Linked DNA regions of Homo sapiens: region 2 is linked to region 1. The links come from fine-mapping of genetic effects on gene expression. A gene starts in region 1. The other region holds a variant in brackets. All regions are shown on one strand. Distances are from middle to middle.

The links. PIP is the estimated chance that this variant, and not a neighbour inherited with it, causes the effect.
Region 2: its variant is fine-mapped to the expression of FBXO45 in skeletal muscle (GTEx, PIP above 0.99). The same link has a PIP of 0.9 or more in cerebellar hemisphere and cerebellum.

Annotation. Positions count from the first base shown.
Region 1 is chr3:196,563,468-196,575,537 of GRCh38, forward strand. It overlaps FBXO45 (F-box protein 45), which reads left to right and starts at 5,193. Exons shown (of 3, transcript NM_001105573.2): 1 at 5,193-5,835. The coding sequence starts at 5,518. WDR53 (WD repeat domain 53) reads right to left here and starts at 5,087. Exons shown (of 4, transcript NM_182627.3): 1 at 5,052-5,087; 2 at 3,410-3,840. RefSeq lists enhancers at 1-858, 3,229-4,428, 6,446-6,994, 6,995-7,542 and silencers at 5,150-5,689, 5,811-6,105.
Region 2 is chr3:196,584,329-196,596,398 of GRCh38, forward strand. FBXO45 (F-box protein 45) reads left to right here. Exons shown (of 3, transcript NM_001105573.2): 3 at 1-4,731. Among named protein-coding and RNA genes, the nearest start is that of FBXO45, 22 kb to the left of the region's middle. The variant T/C (reference allele first, on the strand shown) is at 6,109.

The DNA.
Region 1 (12,070 bases):
TTGTGCTATTTTCAGATAAGATACTTGAATTTAGCCCAGTGGTACAGAGATAAAATCATTTAAAATAATCTGGCAATCTGCCCAAAGTTTCCATTCCCAACACAAAGCTTTTTTTTTTTTTTGAGACGGAGTCTTGCTCTGTCGCCCAGGTTGGAGTGCAATGGCACAATCTCAGCTCTCTGCAACCTCTGCCTCCTATGTTTAAGCGATTCTCCTGCCTCAGCCTCCCAAGTAGCTGAGATTATAGACGCCTGCCACCACGCCAGGCTAACTTTTCCATTTTTAGTAGAGACAGGGTTTCACCATGTTGGCCAGGCTGGTCTTGAACTTCTGACCTTACATGATCCACCCACTTCAGCCTCCCAAAGTGCTGGGATTATAGGCGTGCGTCACCGCACCCAGCCTCCCCCTACTTTTAGTCACACATACGATCACTAATTAGACTGCAAAAAAATCACTGATCTATTAGTAATCAAGGTAACGGAAACGTGATCACAAAATCAAATACAGAAATGTTCATAAAAATAACAAAATAAAAAACAAAATTAAACTTTTGTTTTCAAGCAGAAGCACTCAACTAATATACAGAGGAAACTAACTGGAGACTGAAGCAATAATATTTAAAGGAGAGAATTGGAGAGGAAATGACTCAGAGGGAGGTAAAAACAGGGAGCCCTGGTGGTTTGATTTTTGCTGACAAGTACTGAAACAGCAGCAGGTAAATATGCCGTAACGAAGACTGTTGCCAAAAGTTCCAGATAAACCTAGATTTTAAACGAAAGGCACTGATAGTATTTAGGCTTAGGAACTGTAATACTGACTTACCTCATGATAAAGATGCTATCCTACAAATTTGAATTGAGTATTGAAAAGTCAATTTAAGTTACAAATAATTTTGTTTAACGATTTCAATTTTTTTTCTTTTTTCTTTTTTTTTTTTTTTTGAGACAGGGTCTTGCTCTGTCATGCAGGCCTTGACCTCCCCAGGCTCAAGTGATCCTCCCGCCTTAGCCTCCTGAGTAGCTGGAACTACAGGCTCTCACCACCAAACCCACCTAATTTTTTGTATTTTTTTTGTAGAGATGAGGTTTCCCCACATTCCCCAGGCTGTTCTTGAACTCCTGGGCTCAAGTGATCCTCCCGTCTCAGCCTCTCAAAGTGCTGGCATCACAGGCATGAGCCACTGCACCCAGCCAATGCTTTCAAATCTTTAGAATGTCGATCACTTTTTTGCCAAGTTATAGTTTTAATTTTGCTATGATGAATCAACTTTGAAGTCAGGAAGTCTGTACTCTAGAGCATTAAGATTTGCTGATATTTGTGTGCATACAGGTTTTGGATCCCAGCTGGGATTTTAGGTTTTCTCTGAAACAAGAATGAGGCAAGGTTTCTAGTGCTCCTGTTTCTCCATTACAAATCTACCCACAGGAGAGCCAAATAAATGCTGACTGACAGACAAAAGTTTTAGCAGGTTTTCTTCCTAATTTAATTCTTTTCTAGAAAAGATTAACTCAATCTTCAAGGTTCATTCAGTTAAGTTTTGCTCCGAAGTGTGAGAAGACAGGCAATAAACGAATTTTGTCCTTAAAGGGATTATTATAAAGACTACAGTTCCTATAAATTTTTCCACAGTGGAACCAGTAGTAACTCTTGTTCTATTAGTCTCACAAGACCCCAAGAACACTTTCATCTTATTAAACTCTACACACTAAACTCCTACTCTCTAAATCACATAGATAATATTTACTGATCATTTATCTAGTCAGAAAAATAAATAACTGTTACTGGGAATGTTAAAAAAAAAAAAAAGGCAGGGGCCAGGGGAGGCTGGGCGTGGTGGCTCACGCCTGCAATCCTAGCACTTTGGGAGGCTGAGGAGGGCGGATCACTTGAGGTCAGGAGTTCAAGACCACCCTGGCCAAGATGGAGAAACCCTGTCTCTACTAAAAATACAAAAATTAGCAGGGTGTGGTGGTACGTGCCTGTAATCCCAGCTACTCGGGAGGCTGAGGGCTTGAACCTGGGAGGTGGAGGTTGCAGTGGTGAACTGAGATTGTGCCACTGCACTCCAGCCTGGGTGAGAGTCGGGGTGAGGGGGCAGGGGGGAGTTTGGAAAGCCCCAGAAACAGAAATCCATAAACTCTGAGGCTATTAATTTTAGTCAATCAAGATTTATTATGCAAACTATTGATCAGCGATTCAACTAGAGCCTCCAAAATTGTTTACTTAGTCTATAAAACTAAAATGATTTGTTATTATTTGAAACACACCAAAGAACACTATGAAAAAGTTAATCAGATTGCTGTGATAGAAGGGTAGTGGGAAAAAATGTAATTAAAGTTGGGTTAAATCAAAACAATTTTTCAGAAATGAGTTGGCAAGCCACTGTTTCTTGCTTTTCTATGACTGCAACTGGAAAGCCTGGCAGAAAGAGGTGAAGTGTCACCATCCCCACATTCACGTATCAAGTCAACAAGCTTCTCTTTTCCTATGGAGTTGCCTAAAGCGTTAAGCACAGCAGTTAATCATATCCTACTGTAAATTACTTTAATTAGATAATAGATCACTTCCTTCTAATACCTAAAGAAATCACACAGAGTGGGTGAGGGAAAGGTGAGTTTTTTCTTGTGTTTTTTTTTTGAGACAGTATCTCCCTCTGTTACCCATACTGGAGTGTAGTGGCCCAATCTCTGCTCACTGCAACTTCCACCTTCGGGGCTCAAGTAATCCTCCCACCTCAGTCTCCCAAGTAGCTGGGATTACAGGCATGCACCACCACGCCCAGCTAATTATCTTATTTTTTGTAGAGACAGGATTTCACCATGTTGCCCAAGCTGGTCTAACTCCTGAGCTCAAGCAATCCACCCACCTCGGCCTCCCAAAGTGCTGGGATTACAGGCATGAGCCACTGTGCCCTGCCAGGTGAGTTATTTTGAGAGCATTTTTTTCTTTTTTTTTTTTTTGAGACAGAGTTTCGCTCTCGTCGCCCAGGCTGGAGTGCAATGGTGCAATCTCGGCTCACTGCAACCTCCGTCTCCCAGGTTCAAGCGATTCTTGTGCCTCAGCCTCCTGAGTAGCTGGAACTACAGGCATGCACCACCACGCCCGGTTAATTTTTGTATGTTTGGTAGAGATGGGGTTTCACCATGTTGGCCAGGCTGGTCTCAAACTCCTGACTGCAGGTGATCCGCCCGCTTCGGCCTCCCAAAGTGCTGGGATTCCAGGCGTGAGCCACGGCACCCGGCCGAGAGCATTTTTTAAAAGGGTGAAGTGCCACAGCCGGCAGTTCTCATCAGCCAGAGCGCAGAATGAGAGTACTGAACATGGGGAAGGGGCTTGGTGGGGTGGGTGATGAGCAGGTGAAAGATTTGTAAAAAAGAAAAGGAGGGGTTGAGAAGGGTAATCTTACTTTGAAATTCTACCTGGGGCGCTCAGGAGACGGTCTGCCGTTGAAAGTCACCTCAGCGGCTGGACTAGATTAGTAAGAATGACAACATCGCATCCTTCAAAGGCTCTGCCTCGGCTGCACTGAGACACGATAAAGGCCAGTCTTTAAAAACTGAGTGATCTCTAAACACTCTGCACTAGTCATACCACCACCGTCCCGTTCAAGAGTCTGTGCCTCTAAGGCTGTTCATTCTGTCTAGTTCATGATCCCTTTCTCAGATGGATCAACTCTGCTTATCCTTGAAGACTTCAAAGAAATTAGTGAGAGACAGTCACCATCACCAGAGTCAGCACAGGTCAACTTTTCTCTACAGGCTTGGGGTTTCTGAAGTTGGACTTGATGTGGAGAAGCTGGATAGCAACCAAAATGATTGAAGGGCTGTGGCGCTGGCACTGGTAAGAATGAAAAGAATTAGGGTTACTGGACTTGGTGAAAAAGACATGAGGAGAAGGGACAGGCAAATAATAATCAAACACCATGAATCAGAGGGTAGGGAAGGTAGCCACCGTTCCTTTGCTTTTACTAGAGACTAAGAAATGGATTATACATAGCAAGAAGCTTCAGAAAAGATTTCTTACTACATAAAGGTTCCAAGACATTGGAGTTGACCAAGGGAGTCTGTGAACCCTATTATTTTAATTACTCAGCTCATGGAGTTGTTTTGAGGATTACGTATATAAAAATCTGCGTAAATGACGTAGTATACAGTGCCTGGTTCACACCGTGGCTCAAATGATGGTTATTATTATTCTCTTACTAAGCATGCTTTAAAGGCTGTCGGAAAACTTTGGGGCCACCTAGGAAATCGTAGTATAATCAAATAATGCTGAAATTCTTGTGTGTGTGTGTGTGTGTGTGTGTGTGTGTGTGTGAGGTAGGGGCTCACTCTGTCGCCCAGGCTGGAGCACAGCAGGGCGATTACGGTTCACCTCAGCCTCGACCTCCCGGGCTCAGCCTCCCAAGTAGCTGGGACCAGAGGCGCACGCCACCACCCTCGGCTAATTTTTCTATTTTTTTGTAGCGACACTGCCTCGCAATGTTGCCCAAGCTGGGATGCTGAAATTCTTCCCCTTCCAAGAATCCATCTATAATTATAGCCTCCACGTCATTCTCCCTATTGGAATGTTTAATTGACTAAAACTACATTGCCTTCATCTGCTTACTAAGCGGTGGATCCAGTAAAGACCACATCTTGTCCAAAAGACGGCAGCACTTAATTAGCGCTCAAATGGCACTCGAACGTTTGGGCGAGGGGGTGTTCAGTCGCAGCCACCTTACTTTGCGAAGGCACACAGGGACAGACGTTCGCTAAGTGCCGATACTTAGGGAGAACGAGAGGGCCTGACCAGGTAAAGACGGCCTCCGCTGCCCAAGCTACACAAAAAGGTTGGGGAGCCAGGACCCGGCAAGCAAGGAGAGAAAAGTTTCATGCGTTGAGCTGGAGTCTGAAGCAAGGACCTAACGGACACAGGGAAACGTCACAGGAAAGGGAGCCCAGGAGAGCAGACGCGGAGCCACCAGACCAGAAAAAGGAAAAAGCACTGGAAAACAGCATCGAAGTCACCGGAAAGCAGCATCGAAGCCACCGGCGCCAGCCTCATACCTGCGCTTCCCGCTCCCCTCCTCGGCGCCTAGTGATAACCTCACCCGCCGGCGCCCAATCCCGTCGAGCGTCAGGCGTGAGGCGGCGCAGCCAAACAGTCACATCCGGGGCCGAGAGGAACCGCGAACGAGCTGGGCGTGCGCCCTTGCTTCGTGCCCTCAACCCGCATGGCGGAGCCGCTGGCGCGCCGCGGAGAGGCCGGGCGAGTCGGGCGGTTTCGGCGCCCGCGCTGAGCCGCGGAGGAGGGGCGGAGGACGCCCCTGCAGCCGGTGCGTCTGCCCTCAGTGAGGCGGGGCGCGCGGCGGACGCCCCCGGGCAGGGGCGGGAGTGGTGGAGGCGCCGGCGGTTGGCACTGACAGGGGCGGTGAGCGAGCCGCTCCGGTCTCCGGGCGAGGCTTGGCCTTCCGAGCAGAGACGGCGGGAAGCGGCGGCGGCAGCGGCGGCCCTAGGGCCGGCTGGTGAGGCGATGGCGGCGCCGGCCCCGGGGGCTGGGGCAGCCTCGGGCGGCGCTGGCTGTAGCGGCGGCGGCGCGGGCGCGGGCGCGGGCTCGGGCTCTGGGGCCGCGGGGGCCGGGGGCCGGCTGCCCAGCCGGGTGCTGGAGTTGGTGTTCTCTTACCTGGAGCTGTCCGAGCTGCGGAGCTGCGCCCTGGTGTGCAAGCACTGGTACCGCTGCCTGCACGGCGATGAGAACAGCGAGGTGTGGCGGAGCCTGTGCGCCCGCAGCCTGGCAGAAGAGGCTCTGCGCACGGACATCCTGTGCAACCTGCCCAGCTACAAGGCCAAGGTGAGAGAGCCCCGGGCCACACCGCTGCCCCCAGTCCCGCTCCCCGGCGTCGTTCGCGGTGTTTCTCATCCGAGCTTCTGAGTCAGAAGCTTCGCCTCACCAGCCCGCCTTTCCACGGCTCCAGTCAGTATCTTCCTCACCTCCCCCCAAGATAAAGATTCTCTTTTCTTTGGATCGAAGTTCTGCTCCTTAACCCATCCCACTTCCGTGATCCACTTTTCAAACAACTAGGTAGTTTGCCTCACTCATTCAACTTTTGACAGTTTTCCCCGTTAAAGACAGACCACCACTCTTGTACCTTTTAATGCCCTCATCCTACTTTTCTCCCCGGCCTCCAGATAGACTTCATTATATTAAATAATCCCGGCCACCTTAACATGGGCTTAGTTTCTAAGTTTCTAAGTTTCTAGTTTGCTTTCACTCCACGTTTATCTCATCTTTTCCAAGCTCTGATTTTTAACCATTTGTTTTCATTATTTTCCCCCAAGTTCTCTTTAGTTCCCTCCACTATATTGGAGGCTTACAAGTGAGTGTAGTTCTAGTCATCCTGCTCACTTACAAGATACAGGCTTTTATAGAACGTCCACGGGCACCACCTAACATACTGCTTTGTCCTGCTGTTATTGGCTGTTTCCTTGCTAACTTTTTAATAGTTCCACATTGATGGTGTCTCTCTTTTTCTATTTGTCATCTAACGTGCTGATTACAGTTTCGCTGCATCCTTCCTGCATATTCCGCCCGCCTTCATATACAAAATAAAAATGTCAAGGAACAAGTTGTGGTACGGCTGAAAGGACTCTCAGGCCGAATAAACAAAGGGTCTTGGTCTTGAGTTGAGTTGAATGGTTAACAGCTATTCAGTATAGCAGTCAATCAAGATCATATATAAGAGAAGATAAAGTCTGATTGCAATGTGTTAAACATAATGAATGCATTAGTAACTAAAACGATAACATCCCCCCCTTTTTTTTTTTTTTTGAGACGGAGTGCAATGGCGTGATCTCGGCTCACCGCAACCTCCGCCTTCCAGGTTCAAGCAATTGTCTTGCCTCAGCCTCCCGAGTAGCTGGGATTACAGGCATGCGCCACCATGCCCGGCTAATTTTGTATTTTTAGTAGAGTTGTGGTTTCTTCTTGTTGGTTAGGCTGGCCTCGAACTCCCGACCTCAGGTGATCCGCCCTCCTCGGCCTCCCAGAGTGCTGGGATTAGAGGCGTGAGCCACCGCGCGATAACACCCCCTTTTTAATGCTAGCTTGCCAACAGGGGTCGGAGTAAGAAGTAAAAATTTTTTTTTCATGTGAAGCATGTAAAATTTATACTTATGTAGTAAAACCGGTTTTAGTTATAGAAGATAGGGAACATTGCCATTAAATATGTAAACTATCAAGTTGTTTCTCTTTTCTTTTTTCTTTTTTTTTTTTTTTTTGAGACGGAGTCTCGCTCTGTCACCCAGGCTGGAGTGCAGTGGCGGGATCTCAGCTCACTGCAACCTCCGCCTCCCGGGTTCACGCCATTCTCCTGCCTCAGCCTCCTGAGTAGCTGGGATTACAGGCGCCCGCCACCACGCCCGGCTAATTTTTTGTACTTTCAGTAGAGACAGGGTTTCACCGTGTTAACCAGCATGGTCTCAATCTCCTGACCTCGTGATCCGTCGCCTTGGCCTCCCAAAGTGCTGGGATTACAGGCGTGAGCTCATGCGCCCGGCCTCAAGTTGTTTTTCTATTAAGCGAAATAACAATAATTTACTAGGACTGTTTGTGCGTGGTGGCTATTCAGTGGATACTGGTTGTAATTTATATAGGTGAGTACAGACGATTGGAATTTTGTCCTACTTTGATAAATGTGTCGGTTTCATAAATTTTATTTAGTTTTTATTTTTCTGTAAAGTTTATTGTTTTTACTTATTTTAAACTAGGAGTTTTTGTTGTTGTTTTTGAGACAACAAAACAACAAAACTCTGTCGCCCAGGCTGCAGTGCAGTGGCACAATCATAGCTCACTGCATCCTCGACCTCCTGAGCTCAAGGGATCCTCCTTAGCTTAGCCTCCCGAGTAGCTGGCACTTCAGTCATGTGCCACCACACTGGCTAATTTTTTATTTTTTAGAGACACGGGGTCTCACCTTGTTGCCTAAGCTGGTCTCAAACTCCTGGACTCAAGCGATCTTCTTGCCTCAGCCTCCCAAAGTGCTGGGGTTACAGGCATTAGCCACTGCACCCAGCCTAAATTAGGAGTTGTTGTTTTGATAATTGACTTGTAATAGAAATGTTCACATGATTCAAGATTCATATTATAATATGTAATAGATAATGTGTTCGTGTGAGTCAAGCTTCAATAGAAGCAAAATGATATCAAGCAAAATGTTTTCCTTTCATCCTTGTCGCTCAGCTACCCGGTTCCTCTCCATGTATGCAACCTGTCTTACTTTTTCTTTTGTATCCTTCCAGAGATATTTTAGGTTTCTGAGGTTTTTAATACTTTGCTTTTCTGCTATGTGCATTATAGATGTTGTAGACTTGTACCAATCACTGTTCATTCACACATTGTAGGACTTCCCTTGAATATTTTGAGGATAAAAGATTAATTCAAAAGGAGTCAAATAGTCTAGTAGGAAATCTTTCAGTCTAGTAGAGGAGAGAAAAATGTATAGAAAGAACTGCTAATGTGTGGTAGAAATTGCTCCTTACTGTTACAGACATAAAAAAGTATACTAGAAGTTCAGTGAAAGGAGGAATTTACAAACTGAGTGGAGGATTGGAGGAGATTTGAGGTTGAGCTTATATTTGAGCTGAATTTTAAAGATGAGGAGGAGTTTAGTATTTTAGGAAGAGGAAGTACTCTGAGCAGAAGCAGGACAAGAGGAAAGTAAAGGGTTTGTACAACATATATTTTTATTTAAAAAAATGAGTGCCAGGCACTATGCTCATTTGCAGATGCAATGGCAAATAAAACAAACACAGTCTCTTAATGGATGTCTTGCCTTATGGAGCTTACAGTCTAGTAGGGGAAATGGATATTAATCAAATAATCACACAGATGTAAAACCGCATCTGGTAAGTAGTATGAAGGAAAAATACCTAGTGCTCTGATTGTCAGTAGTGGAGGATTTAACCTGGTGGAGAGGTGAGGGAAGGCTTTCTCAGATCCATGTACTGAGACCTGAAGGATGATAAGTAGGCAAAGGGGAGAGAGAACAGCCTTCCAGGAGGGAACCTTATGAGTGTGAGGGATGGAAAATATGTCAATGTGGCTGGAGCACAGAGAGCAAAGGTGATGCTGGTTTGAGATAAGATGGAAGAAGTGGACTGGGACCAAAGCGTAGGGAAGCCATTTTGAGTTGTAAGCAAGAAGGATTTGAGGTGTGGGGATTGGTGATATGATTATTTTGCATTTTAAGAGATTATTTCTGACTTTAGTATGGAGAACTAAATTGTTGGTTGGAAGAGGACCTTAGAAATATGGTAGATCAATTAGGAAATAGGTAGTGGAGGAGATAGAAATGGGCAGATTTAGTAAGTAAAATCTATAGAATTGGCAATAGATTTGAAATAGGGATGAGGAAGAGGGAAGTGGTAAGGATGACTCCTAGTATTTGGCTCACATAATGTAGAGATCAGTTGATCTAGATTTTTTTTTTGAGATGAGGTCTTGCTCTGTTGCCCTGGCTGGAGTGCAGTGGAATGATCATAGCTCACTGCAGCCTTGAACTCCTGGGCTCAAGCGATCCTCCCACTTCAGCCTTCTGTGTGGCTGGGACTACAGGCATGTGCCACCATGCCCAGCTAATTTTTATTATTATTTTTTTTTGTAGAGATGTCTCATTATGTTGCCCAGGCTGGTGGGCTAGGTTTCGAAGAAATGGCAGTGAGTTCAGTTTTGGGAGAGCAGCATTTACAGTATTTTTGAGACAGAGATTTCCAATAGGCAGCTGTTGGAGGTTGGAGCTTAGAGGAGAGATCTGCGCTAAAGATATAAAATAATATAGTTAGATTGAATGAAAGGAAGTAGTGGGAAATATTATAAAGCTATATTATGGGACTAGATATATCATGGAGGGCTTTGAAATATAGCCTTCAGTCTATAGTTTGGGTTTTGTACTACAGTTGTAAACCATAGAAGTTTGAACAGCAGAGTGACAAAGGCTCTACTTCAAAAAGACTAGGCCATAGATGAGTTGGAGAGGGCAGCGGTTAGTGCCTATACCAGAGATACTTAAGACTGGAACAGGTACATCGAGGAGAGAAGGGGATGGCTGGAGAGCTGTCGTAGAAAACAATATACATAGGTAGACAGCTGACTGGGTGAATGGGATGAGGAAGATGGATGTGTCAAATGGATTTTCCCAGGAGCCTGGATAACAGAGAATGATAGGAAAAGGTTTAGGGATAGCATAGAACAGGAAAGTGGAGTTTATTAATCTGTTCAGTTGTTTTTTTTTTAAGTTCATATTTTACATATCACCCCGTAGCATTAATTATTTAAGTCATACTTGGCATCTGATGAGAATTCTCTAAAGTTCAGACTTAGATTTTAAGCTAGGTCTTCATGCTGCTTTTGCCATAACAAAATTCAGGTTGTGCATGGGAATGTGAGGCTATGGGTTGTTTTTAATTTATTAATTTGGTCTTTATTTTCCTTTTTTTTTTTTTTTTTGAGACAGAGTCTTGCTCTGTTGCCCAGGCTGGAGCGCAGTGGCACAATTTCAGCTCACTGCAACCTCTGCTTCCTGGGTTCAAGTGATTCTGCCTCAGCCTCCCAAGTAGCTTGGATTACAGGAGCCTGCCACTACGTCCAGCTAATTTTTGTATTTTTAGTAGAGACAGGCTTTCACCATGTTGGCCAGGACGGTCTCGATTTCTTGACCTCGTGATCCGCCTGCCTCGGCCTCCTGAAGTGCTGGGATTATAGGTGTGAGCCACCATGCCCGGCCTATTTTCCCATTTCATATGAAGTTTCCAGTATCTGTTTCTAAAAAGTAAAGACACTTAATGTAATCACAATATGGTTATCACATCTAAATATAAATGTACATTAATTCCTTAATATCAAAAATGCAGTGTTCAAATTGCCAGTTGTCTCATAAATGTTAAATGTTGCATTTTAAAGTTATATTTTATATAATCAAGATCTATATAAGGGTCCCATGGCAAAGGTTGATATGTCTCTTAAGGCTATTTTAGTCTACATATTCACTCACCATCTCCCCAACCTCCCACCTTATTTGTTGAGGAAACAAGGTGGTTTACTCTCAGCTCGATTTTGCGGATTTCATTATCATCGTGTTGCTTGACATGTTCTTCTGTCCTCTATTTCCTACTGAGGTGTGATCAATTTAGATTAGATTAGATTTTTTTTGCAAGTTATTTTGTACTAGACTCAGTGGTTAAAAGTGTGTTAGAAAATAAGAGCTGCTAAATTGTTACGTGGCACAGAAAGTGGTGGGCAAGCACCCGGCAGAGAGAGACATCAAGGGAATTGGGTGGCCCTGGTTAAGAATAGCTTAATAGAGGTGATCTTAGAGAATGTGTGGGAGAAGAAAGCACATATAATACTTTCAGCAAGAAGAACATCATCAAGGTAGAAAGGGAAATAGGAAGAATCAGATTTGGAGGGCTGTGAAAGCCAGGCAGAAGAATTTGCAGTTGGTGATGCTACTAAGTATGGAACTACCAGAGGTTATAGAACTGGGATGAGATATGTAGTAAAGGTGCTGTTTTAGAAAGACAGGTTTGGAAATAATTCAGATAGAGAGTTGAGGACTGAGTTTGGAGAATTTGGTTGGGGCAGAGGAAGGGTGGTCACCAAAAAAGGAAATGATACAGGATCAGTTCAGGGAAATAGGAAGATGTCATAGAAGTTTGAGGAAGAGAGGGCCGGGCGTGGTGGCTCACGCCTGTAATCCCAGCACTTGCGGAGGCCAAGGCAGGCGGATCACCTGAGGTCAGGAGTTTGAGACCAGCCTGGCCAACATGGTGAAACCCTGTCTCTATTCAAAATTCAAAAATTAGCCGGGTGTGGTGGTGCACGTCTGTAATCCCAGCTACTCGGGGGAGGCTGAGACAGGAGAATCGCTTGAACCCAGGAGGCAGAGGTTGCAGTGAGCTGAGATTGAGCCACTGCACTCCAGCTTGGGTGACAGAGTGAGACTCTGTCTCAAAAAAAAAAAAAAAGAAAAGGAAGTTTAAGGAAGAGGTTGTCAATAGTGTCAATGTGAAATTGGAATTTATAAGAATTG
Region 2 (12,070 bases), 21 kb after region 1:
CTTGTGATGACAGACAGAATGGAGGAGAGATCTGCTTATGGGAAGTAGAACCATGAAGTGACTGTCACACATGCATGTCCAAGAAACATCCTGAAAACACATGAAGTCGTAAACTGGAGAAGCAGCTCTACAGCAGAGATTATCTTCGTGTTTCCTCTTTCTACTGGGCCAGAAAAATCCTCAGGGTTGCAGTTGGTTGAGTGGGCAGTTGACATATGCATGTTGCACCCGATGTTGTCTCTAAGTTAGCAATGTGTTATTTCCAGCTTTAAAGGTGAGATTGTAGAGATGCTGTCAAAGGGATAAGGAAATAGCAAGATTTTTAAGTAGTGTGTTTGTGAAGACTGATCCCATTTTACAACTGCCTGTTCTTTCTCCAGTCCTTTTTTTTCCAGCCAGCTTGACTATTAGAAAAGTATGAAACTGGTTGGGTTTTATTTAATATTTTTAATATATTGAGAAGCATGGTCTGCCTGGACTGCACTTCTCTAAAAGTGAGATATAAAATTGTGCAGCTATTTTAAAAGTTGTATATAATATGTGTGTAAAAAAAAAAAACTGTAAAAAAGAAAGGACAAACAGGTTGTTTTGTTCTAGTTCTAATTTCTTAAAAACCACTACATGGTTACAAAATTGGAATAACATTTGGGGACAACTGGGTTAACTACAAAGAAGAGGATTTTAAGAGGAGATGTGTTGTATTGACTCATTTTGTATTATTTTTGGCTTACAGTTCCCATAGCTGTTAGAGTCTGGTTTGTTTTTGTTTTTACTCTCAAAATCATAGTAAAGATCTCTCAGTCTCCTGGCTAAAGATTGAAGGAAGGCAAATCTATTTCTAATTATACATATATCAGTAAGGATGATCTCAACATAATAGTAATGTGTATCTTTTGGTATCCAGTTTTATTTTTGGCCTTCTAAGAAAGTGTCTCATAACACAGAACATTGCCATTTGCTCTTGTAGGCCTCAAATATGAAAGCTATTAGTCATAGAGCCTAGGAAAAAAAGAATTGATTAATGGTCCTTTTATTTTGTAACCTTATAAATGCTGTAGATATTATCAAAAAAATTTTAATTTCATATTGTTTACATCATGCAACTAATCTAAGCCTCAAACTCGTTATTGGGGCTATAAAGAAAACGTTTACTTACCCAGCTGAAACAGGTTAAGAATATTCTTAATCTCATTATAGATAATTGCCCCCATGGGACTTGAAATACAACACCTTGTGCTGAAAACTTCAGGTTGGCAATATTTGAAGGTTTCGTTGTAGAAGAGTTTAACATTAACTCCTATTTTGACTTACAAATCTTGTTTCTCATCACTAAAATGCTTTTGAATTAATAATCCAACCCACATGAGCTGAGAGTTTTTCTTTTGTTAGAAAAGAAACAGACATCTTTCTGTATGAAAGTATAAATTGTATGGTTTTAGATACATAAGAATTGACAAAAGCGAGCGAAATCTTTGTACTTCTGAGTTCTTGCTGTATGTATGTTTTGTTTTAAATCTGATTAGGGACACCCAGCAGCTGGCCGGGATTCTTGGATTGCTCCTTGGGAGTTAAGATTGTCAATACTCCTGTGAAGCAAGGGATTTCAGCCATAGAACAAAGATTTATTGTTGCCACCTGAAAAGTTTACAAGTATTTATTGTGTATTTGATACATTGCTTGAAAAGATGAAATCTGTTAAAGATTCTTTTCGATGTCCAGGTTAAGAAGAAACCTCCTTGTATTGAGTGAAATTATATGTTAAATGTATTAGAGAATGTAGGTGGTATAGAAATTGATTTTTCTTGGTGTAGAACAACTCAGTTCGGCAAAGTTTAAAATTTGATTAAACAAGAGAAGTGGTTCAGGTTGAAGATGGACTTGTTAGGAAGTGATCAAGTCCTTTAAGTACTTGTTTCTTTTTCAGGTTGTGATGTGGCCATTCCGAATTTTGTTGAGAGTTTGGTTTATAATTGTCTCTTTTGTCTTGTTAGTAAACATTCATTTGCAACAGTTTTGAAGGTGCTGAGTGGAAAACCGAAACACATGGTTATTGCGTATTGGACCTAGAATGAAATAATTGCCTCAATATTTAACAACAAGCCATTCTTATCTCAAAGATTTAAATTCCCGAATGTCCCATTCGCAAATCATATGCAATTGAAGTGAGCAGCATGAGCATCTGGGTCATGAGGGCCTTCATTTACGTAAATTTGTCACTAAAACCCAGTAGTAGCTCTACAAAATCTTAAACTGCTGCAGTGCTCAAGGAGATGGAATATCTTTGTCATTGGTGCTGAGGAGAGCATTTCGGTAGAAGACAGTTGCGCCTGAAGATTGAGTGTAAATCATTCAAACCAGTGGTTCTCAGTGTTGGCTGTATACACTTTGTAGTCACTTTGGAATGTTGGAAGACACATCGATGCTTGGGTTCCGTATGCCAAGATTCTGATGTTGGTCTGGAATATGAGCTGGTCATAAGGATTTTTAAAAACTTTCTGGTCATTTCAATATGCTGCCAAGGTTGAGAACCACTGTTGTAAAATTCACCTTGAGTTTTCTCATCTGCAAAATAGAAAAAAAAAAATCCTTGCTCCCTCCCTTCACTACCTCACAAGGATATTGAGGGTAAAGGAGAAAATAATGGGAAAGTGCTTGTGCCGTGGATGAAAAGTGCTATTAAAAGTCAAAGGAGTGTTCTGTTTCAATTCATAGTATGATCAGGGAAAGTGTAACTGAGTATACTTTGTTGACTTGGGAAACCTGGAGCACTTTCTTTGGTTGGTTAACGAAGCATGCAGATGTGGAAGCAGACGTTACTATTATCCCTACTATGGTCTTCTGTCATACTGAGACAGGCTGTTTTAATTACCTGGTTTTACATAGGAAAGAAGAAATATTAAGGCTTAAAGTTTGTAATGATCAATGGCTCATAATTCATTAAATCTTTTCATACAAGGAATTTGTGGTTAATGTCATTTCATAGTTGCCATTATTTTCTCATTATTTGACTTAAATGTTAAGCCATTTATTTCATCTCCCTCATTCACATAAAGTGTAGATATGGATTCAATAAGACACCAAAAGAAAGTAAGATTTACCCAGTTAATATTTAAAATCATTGTTCAGTGATTAGGCATTTTCTGCCTTTTAGAATTATTTGACTGGAGAAAGAGTTTCAAAAATAGCAGAGCCCTAAACCATAAAGAAACTACTACTGTATAATGAACTTTTGTTTGTTTTTGGAGACAGGGTTTCACTCTACTGCCTAGGCAGGTCTTGAACTCCTGGGCTCAAGCAGTCTTCCTGCCTCAGCCTCCCAAGTAGCTGGGATTACAGGTGTATGCCACTATACCCAGCTTTAACTTTTAAATCCCCAAACTATGTAGATTGTCATATTAATATTAATTTTTTTTTGTTATTTTGAAGAAGTGAGTAATTTGAAGAGATAGAAACTTAGGGAGTGGTGTGTGTGTTTCTTTTTTGGAGACAGAGTCACGCAGGCTGGAGTGCACGATCTTGACTCACTGCAACCTTTGCCACCCAGGTTCAAGCAATTCTCGTGCCTCAGCCTCCCGAGTAGCATGTGCCACCACACCTGGCTAATTTTTTTCTTTTTTCTTTTAGACGGAGTCTTGCTCTGTTGCCCAGGCTGGAGTGCGGTGGTGTGATCTCAGTTCACTGCAACCTTTGCCTCCCGGGTTCAAGTGATTCTCCTGCCTCAGTCTCCCGAGTAGCTGGGATTACAGGCACCTGCCACCATGCCTGGCTAATTTTTGTATTTTTAATAGAGACGGGGTTTCACCATGTTGGCCAGGCTGGTCTCGAACTCCTGACCTTGTGATCCACCCACCTCAGCCTCCCAAAGTGCTGGGATTACAGGCATGAGCCACTGTTCCCGGGCCTAATCTTTGTATTTTTAGTAGAGGGGGTTTATGCCATGTTGGCCAGGCTGGTCTTGAACTCCTGGCCAACACCACCCACCTCGCCTCCCAAAGTGCTGGGGTTACAGGCGCGAGCCACCGTGCCAGGCCAGAAATTTAAGGAGTTTTAAAGGTTAGCATTGAAAAGATTACTTTCCAGAAATTGAGACCACCACAGTTCCACAATTGGGACTGTGGTAGATAATCAGGACCACTTGGAAGCCTTTATTAGGAACAGCCCACACCCAGCCCAAATGCTGTCCTCAAAAACATTCCTCAGTTTCTCTAGCTGAATGTAATCTCTCCTTGAAATTTCCCTAGTTTTATATATCTATAGTTGACTCATGCTGTATTTATTTATACCTTGTTTAAAATTATTTATTGATTATTTATTGGTGTCATATCGCCCCTAAACTGGGACAGGATCTCTAACGGACTCATCTTTGTGCCACAACATGTAAGCCCAATAGGCAGGTGCTCACATATTTGCTGAAGGAACAGAGAAAGAACTGCGGAGAAAGACAAAAGCTCCTCTGAAGTTTTAGACTATAGAAGCAAAAATTATAGTAGCAAAAGATGAATGAGAAATTCTGTTCTAGTCCCAGTGAAGCAGGAAGGAAAGGGTTGCAAACTTGAGGCTGGTAAGGAAGAAATAATTACTGTGAATGCATTTAGCCACTCCCCTCTACTCAAAAATACTGGTAAACTCTGATTTTTATATTTGTTTAGAATTTAAATTAGAATTCTGTATCTTTATTTTTTGGAATTCTGTTGTTTTGCCTTAGTTTCTTAATAAAAAGTTAAACATTAACCACCTGTGATTGCTTACATTTAAAGACATTTTTTACACATTGGTTAGAAAGAAAAATTGGGGTGCCTTAATAGCCAGAGGTGGTGATGGAATTTACCTATAAATTCCATGGCTTTAATAATAGAATCCACATTCCCCATGTTTAGAATGGAAAGTGGACAGAGAACAGTAATTCACTAGGGTCTTATTTCCCAATTGCCTCTACCGCCCCCCACCCCACCCTCCTGCTGACATTTGTTTGATAATGCAGTTGTTTGCCAAGAATTATGAGAGACAGGCATGCTATTCCTGAACTGGCTGAATACACGGCTCCTGTGATCCAAAAGCTTAAAAGAGAATCAGTTGATGATGTTGCTAAACAAGTTGGCTGATATGTTAAAGTTCAAAGCATTTTAATTTTTTTTTTTTTTTTTTTTTTTTTTTTTTTTTTTTTTTTTTTTTTGAGACAAAGTCTTGCTCTGTCACCCAGGCTGGAGAGCAGTTGATGTGCTCTCGGCTCATTGCAACCCCTGCCTCAGGTGATCCGTGTGCCTCGGCCTCCCAAAGTGCTGGGATTACAGGCATGAGCCACCGTGCCCAGCCCAAAGCATTTAAATTTTATAAAAGAAAAATAGGTGTAAATGTTCTGTATTTGCCGCTTTGTTTAGTGGAAAGAGACGCCAGAGACAGCTTTACCAGTCTGTTGTCCTGATTTCTTTTTTGGATCCTCCCTCGAACTGTTTGCTTCTTATTTAATGTGTTCACTAAAATACTGTTGAGAGCAACATGTTCTCTAGTCTTCAGAATAATAGTTTGCTGAAAGAAGTAGCCCTTTAAGATTTAAGATTGTTATTCAGCTTTTGTATGTAGGATTTCATGATGAGTGGCTCAAGAAGTAGGAATCATTTGGGGAGTTTCCTTAGGTCACCCTGTTGATAGTGTTTAATTTCTGTTTAAGGCAGGAAAACATTAAGAAAAGATTAGAGAAGTCAAGTCCTGTCTATGATATGATATGATACTTGTACACCATGTTATATTTCTGCCCCCTTTCCTGTATAAATAAAATGGGGATAAAATCAAGTAATGGTTTTGAGGTCATAGCTCCCTTAAGAAAGTCTCCCTGAAATAATGTATTAAAATTCTAGCGTCTCAAGTTAGATTCATTAGAGGCATATTGTAGTGGGAACAGACCAGATATCTTTGTTTATTTTAATATAGCTAACTTGTTCATATTCCCAACCCATGTTTAAAGAGCATATGATTGATCTGTGCCCCCTTGTTGGTCATCTTCACCTTGGAAGGAAAGGAGGCTTAAGGTTGCAATGAGAGTTGTTGATGACATCTCTAACCCCTCAGTAGGCCAAAGAGTGATGTAGTTCATGATCCAATTGCCCAGAA[T/C]AGCACGGACAGATGGTTACTTTGCTAAAAGACATGTTGGTAGCAAAGACACTGCTCTGAGCAGAGACTGGTGGCAAAGCCCAGCGCAATCCACCCTTCTGAGCACAGCCTACAGGAACTTCAGTGCCGACGGAGTCACGGAGGCCACTCTAGGTTTTACATGGCCATAGTTGAGCTTCTGAAATTTTGAAGGATCTCCCTGCCCACCCAGCTACTAGTCATCCACTTGGTAATGTAGACAGAATGAAAAAGGCAGGAAAGATCATTCATCAAATTATTTTCTAACATCCGTTATCTAGCAGGCTTTTACCAGGTACTAGAGATGGAAAGATGAGAAGGAAAAATCGAAGTTGCTGACAAGCTTCTGTGAAAGCAAATGTGGAAACAGACTACTGTGAAACTGAGGTAACTGCTTTAACGAAATTACAGGTGAGGTCCAGGGTGGCATAGGAGAGGGAATAGTTAACCTGGGGCGATGTTTAAGCTGAGCTTAGAAGATAGTAGGTGGGAGCTAATGAGGATAAATCCACTGTTCCAGGCAAGTGGGATAGGACGTGCTATGATACGGAGGCACAGATAGGTCCGCTATGTCTGGAACCATGCTGGACAAGTGGTGGGGGAGGGCATGGAACAGGGAAATTGCGTCTGGATTATAATTGCCATACCAAATAGTTTGGGTTTTGTCTATTTTTTCATGGGGGAAGCCATTCAAAAGTTTTCAGCAGGGGCATGATTAGCTACAAAAACCAATATCTGAAAGGTGGGAGTCAGGAGGTCTAGGCAGAAAATGATGAGGACCTAAACTAAGGTGACTAAAGATGGAGGAGGGATGTATTTAAGAGAATGCAGGAACACATGTGGACACCATTTGTATGTCAAGAGTGAGAAGCTTTTTGGTGCAGACATTTATAAGGTACTGCTTATTAAGAAAGGGTATTGAAAAGGAGGAATAGATTGGGAGGTGAGGGGCCGAGCGCAGTGGCTCACATCTGTCATCCCAGCACTTTGGGAGGCTGAGGTGGGCAGATCACCTGAGGCCAGGAGTTCGAGACCAGCCTGGCCAACGTGGTGAAACCCCGCCTCTACTAAAAATACAAAAATTAGTCGGTTGTGGTGGCAGGTGCCTGTAATCCCAGCTACTCGGGAGGCTGAGGCAGGAGAATGGCGGGAACCCAGGAGGCGGAGCTTGCAGTGAGCCGAGATCGCGCCATTGCACTCCAGCCTGGGTGACAGAGCGAGACTCTGTCTCAAAAAAAAAGATTGGGGGGTGAGGGTAACGAGTGCGGTTTTGAACATGTTAAATCGGAGGTGGAAATACAGAAAAGGCAGTTGGAACTAGTGAGCCTGGAGTTAAGGAGATCGGCAGCCAGCTGGATGAGAGAGCTGCTGGTGTGCCGCGTTCCTCACTGGCCGTACGGGCTCCACAGCCCAGCGGGTAGAGCGAGGGAGGCGGGCCTGCAATACCCCCAAAGGACAACCAACTGCCTTCTAAACCGTGACTCTGCCAACTAAAGGCTGCGGGGGTGTTTTGTTGTTTCGGGATTTTTCTTTTCCTTACATACCCCACACCTCTGAATAACAATCCTAGCAGTTCAATTTTTTTTTTTTTTCTTGGAGACAGAGTCTCGCTCTGTCGCCCAGGCTGGAGTGCGGTGGTGTGATCTCGGCTCACTGCAACCTCCGCCTCCCGGGTTCCAGCCATTCTCCTGCCTCAGCCTCCCGAGTAGCTGGGATTACAGGCGCCCGCCACCACGCCCGGCTAATTTTTGTATTTTTAGGAGAGATGGAGTTTCACCGTGTTAGCCAGGATGGTCTTGATCTCTTGACCTCGTGATCTGCCCGCCTCGGCCTCCCAAAGTGCTGGGATTACAGGCGTGAGCCACCGCGCCCAGCCTCAGTTCAAAATTTTTAGGTGCCTCTTTTTAATTTTGGGAGAAGCTCAGCAATGTTCTATCATTTTGGTCTTGAGGCAAGACCACTGGATCAACAGCACAGGACTCATGCGGTCTAAGTCCTGGGGGCGCTGCTGGTCACGACGCGATTCCGGAGCAGATGTCTTCCTTCCTGGGGCTGTTGCTGAGGCTGACCTAGCTCAATGCTTCTCATTTTGGGATGCCCACTAGAATCACCTGGGGAGTTTTTTATTTCTTTAAATTAGCTTTATTGAGATAATAACTGACATCAAACAAGCTATACCTATTTACCAGTGCACAATTTGATAAGCTTTGATGTATGTATATATCCATCACAATCAAGATAGCCTATATGTGGGAAGCTTTTAAAAGATAAGATGCAGCCGGGCGCGGTGGCTCACGCCTGTAATCCCAGCACTTTGGGAGGCCGAGGCAGGCGGATCACCTGAGGTCGGGAGTTCGAGACCAGCCTGACCAGCATGGAGAAACCCCGTCTCTACTAAAAATACAAAAATTAGCCGGGTGTGGTGGCGCGTGCCTGTTATCCCAGCTACTCGGGAGACTGAGGCAGGAGAATCATTTGAACTCGGGAGGGGGAGGTTGCAGTGAGCTGAGATCCAGCCATTGCACTCCAGCCTGGGCAACAAGAGCAAAACTCCTTCTCAAATAAATAAATAAGATGCCCTAGCAAATTAAATTCCATGGAGTAGTAGAGTGGAGTTTTGTTTGTTTGTTTTTGTTGTTGGTTTTTTTTGAGACAGAGTCTCACTCTCTCCCAGGCTGGAGTGCAGTGGCCCGATCTCGGCTCACTGCAAGCTCCGCCTCCCGAGTTCACGCCATTCTCCTGCCTCAGCCTCCCAAGTAGCTGGGACTACAGGCGCCCGCCACCACGCCCAGCTAATTTTTTGCATTTTTAATAGAGACGGGGTTTCACCGTGTTAACCAGGATGGTCTCAATCTCCTCATCTCGTGATCCACCCCCCTCGGCCTCCCAAAGTGCTGGGATTACAGGTGTGAGCCAACGCACCCAGCCTTTTGTTTGTTTTTAAGTCTCCAGGTACTTCTCCCCTGAACTAGGAGACCACCATTCAGGAATGACATTTGAGCAGCCTCAAGTGGAGGCAAAAATCTCTGGTTTATTTTATGTTACGATTTGATTATTTTATTTTATTTTATTTATTTTATTTTTTGAGACGGAGTCTCACTCTGTTGCCTAGGCTGGAATACAGTGGCGCGATCTTGGCTCACTGGAACCTTTGCCTCCTGGCTGCAAGCGACTCTCCTGCCTCAGCCTCTTGAGTAGCTGGGATTACAGGCAAGTGCCACCATGCCCAGCTAAATTTTGTATTTTTAGTAGAGACGGGGTTTCACCATGTTGGTCAGGCTGGTCTCGAACTCCTGACCTTGTGATCCACCCGCCTGGGCCTCCCAAAGTGCAGGGATTACAGACGTGAGCCACCGTGCCAGGCAAAAATCTCTGGTTTATAACCAGGAAAATTGTATGAGAAAAAAGAGCTCTAGCTCTAGAGACCAAGAGCAAGGTGATGGCAGTGCCAGAGTGAGCACCTAAGGCAAGACTGTCTCTTCTGTGGGTCTTTCTATGGCCCTTAGTGAGCTAAAGTGAGGCTGTCATTTAAAAGAGGTTCTAGCCCGGGTGCGGTGGCTCACGCCTGCCATCCCAGCACTTTGGGAGGCCAAGGCGGACAGATTATGAGATCAGGAGTTCAAGATCAGGCTGGCGAACATGGTGAAACCCCAGCTCTACTAATAATACAAAAATTAGCTGGGTGTGGTGGTGGGTGCCTGTAATCCCAGCTACTCGGGAGGCTGAGGCAGGAGAATCGCTTGAACCCAGGAGGCAGAGGTTGCAGTGAGTCAAGATGGTGCCACTGCACTCCAGCCTGGGCCACACAGTGAGACTCCGTCTCAGGAAAAAAAAAAAAAAAAAAAAAAAGAGGTGTCCTTATCAGGATTCTTTCAGGAATTAGTGCTTTGGTCCTTCCTATATCGGAGTGGCAATGACATTTGGGTGCCTAACCAAAGCTGAGCAGCTGCACCTGTGGTTTGTCACATCTTAAAATCAAACTTCTTATCTCTGATAAAAGGAGATATAATGATTGAAAATTGCTACAGGAAAGAAACAATAAAACCTAATGTCATGGGCTGAGTTGCATCCCCTTGAAAATTTATATGTTGAAATCCTCCAGTACCGCAGAATGTGACCTTATTTGTAAATGGGGTCATCTCAGATGTTACTAGTTAAGATGAGGTCATACCAGAAAAGACTGGGTCCCTAATTTAAGATAACTGGTATCCTTATGAAAAAGAGATTTAGACGCAGACATGCACACAGGGAGGATCCCATGTGAAGATGAAGGCAGCGATCAGGGCCATCCAGCAGATGCCAAGTGCCAAAAACTGCCAGCAAACCAACAGAAACCGGGCAGCGGCGCGAAGCAGATTCTTCCGCACCACCCTCAGAGGAAACCAGCCCTGCTGACACCTTCATCTCAGACTTCTAGCCTCCAGGACTGTGGGACGATACTTTTTTCTTTTTTTTTTTTTGAGACGGAGTCTCGCTCTGTCGCCCAGGCTGGAGTGCAGTAGTGCAATCTTGGCTCACTGCAAGCTCCGCCTCCCGGGTTCAAGCAATTCTCCTGTCCCAGCCTCCTGAGTAGCGGGGGTTACAGGCGCCCACCACCATGCCCGGCTAATTTTTGTATTTTTAGTAGAGACGCGGTTTCACCATATTGGTCAGGCTCGTCTTGAACTCCTGACCTTAGGTGATCCCCCTGCCTCGGCCTCCCAAAGTGCTGGGATTACAGGCGGGAGCCACTGCGCCCGGCAAGGGACGATACATTTTTGTCGTTGAAGCCACCAACTTTGTGGTACTTTGCTGTGGCAACCCTAGGAAACACACCTTTTAATTTTTCTCTCTACCAATTCTATTTCTTTCTGGAGGCAACTTTGATTTTGTGTTTGGTTGTTCGCCGGAACCATGGGAAAGGCCAGGAACAGTTTTAAGGTGTTAAGGTTTGTTGGAAGGTCTTTGTCAGGTTGCATTCGTAACCCAGTGTTTGTAAAGTACTTAGTGTAGTGGTTAGGGGCATGGATTCTGGGGTCATGAATTCAAACCCACGTTCTACCACTTACTAGTTCTGTGACCCTGGGTGGGACATTTGATCCCTCCAAGCCTCAGTTCCCTTATCTGTAAAATGGGGGGCGGGGGGAATCGTGCTACTTACTTTAAAAGGTGATGTGAGCATTACATGAAACGCACATTGAGCCACTTAGAACAGTGCCAGGAGTGTAGTAAGTATTCACTGTATTTCTCATTATTATTACTGAACTGTTCTATAATAGGTAAGTATCATTAGGAGCCAACCATGGAAGAAAAGCAATTTTAGTCACTAAAAAAAAAAAAATTGTGGTGAAATATAAAACATTCCATTCATCTGGTTCTAAAATTAAGAATAGGAAACATTTTAAAATAGGAAATGTTTTAAAATTTAGGAAACATTTAAAAATATTCAAAGCAACAGAACCTGAGGTAGTACAAGCAAAATAAGTTTATTTTAGAGATACAGGGCTGGCTCCCAGAGATCAATAGCAGGAATGCCTTGTTTTTCATGAGGAAGTTGGACAAAGCAATGGAAAGCCATCAGGAGCCTGGGAATACCACCTCTTCCTTATTCCCGAGACATTTCTTCATTCTTTCCCCAAACTTCCTCTTCTACATAGTCCACGTTGTGAAAAATGGCCACCCACACTTCTCCCCTCCATCCAAGAGATCACCTCGGGGTCTCAGATAGACTCCAATTCCTACTACTGGTCCAATCAGCTATGGCCATGGGATGGGGAGTGGGCTCACACGGTACCTAGGATGCCACTGGGGTCTCAGCCCTACGACTCTGTGGCTGGGGGATGAGGGGGAGGGAAGTCATAAAGAAGAGAGAATGGGTACTGCAGGAAGACACTAATAAACATGCTTCCTCCCACCCCCAAAGTTTGGCCATATGAGGAATAGCACATTTGAGGACTCCCCAGAA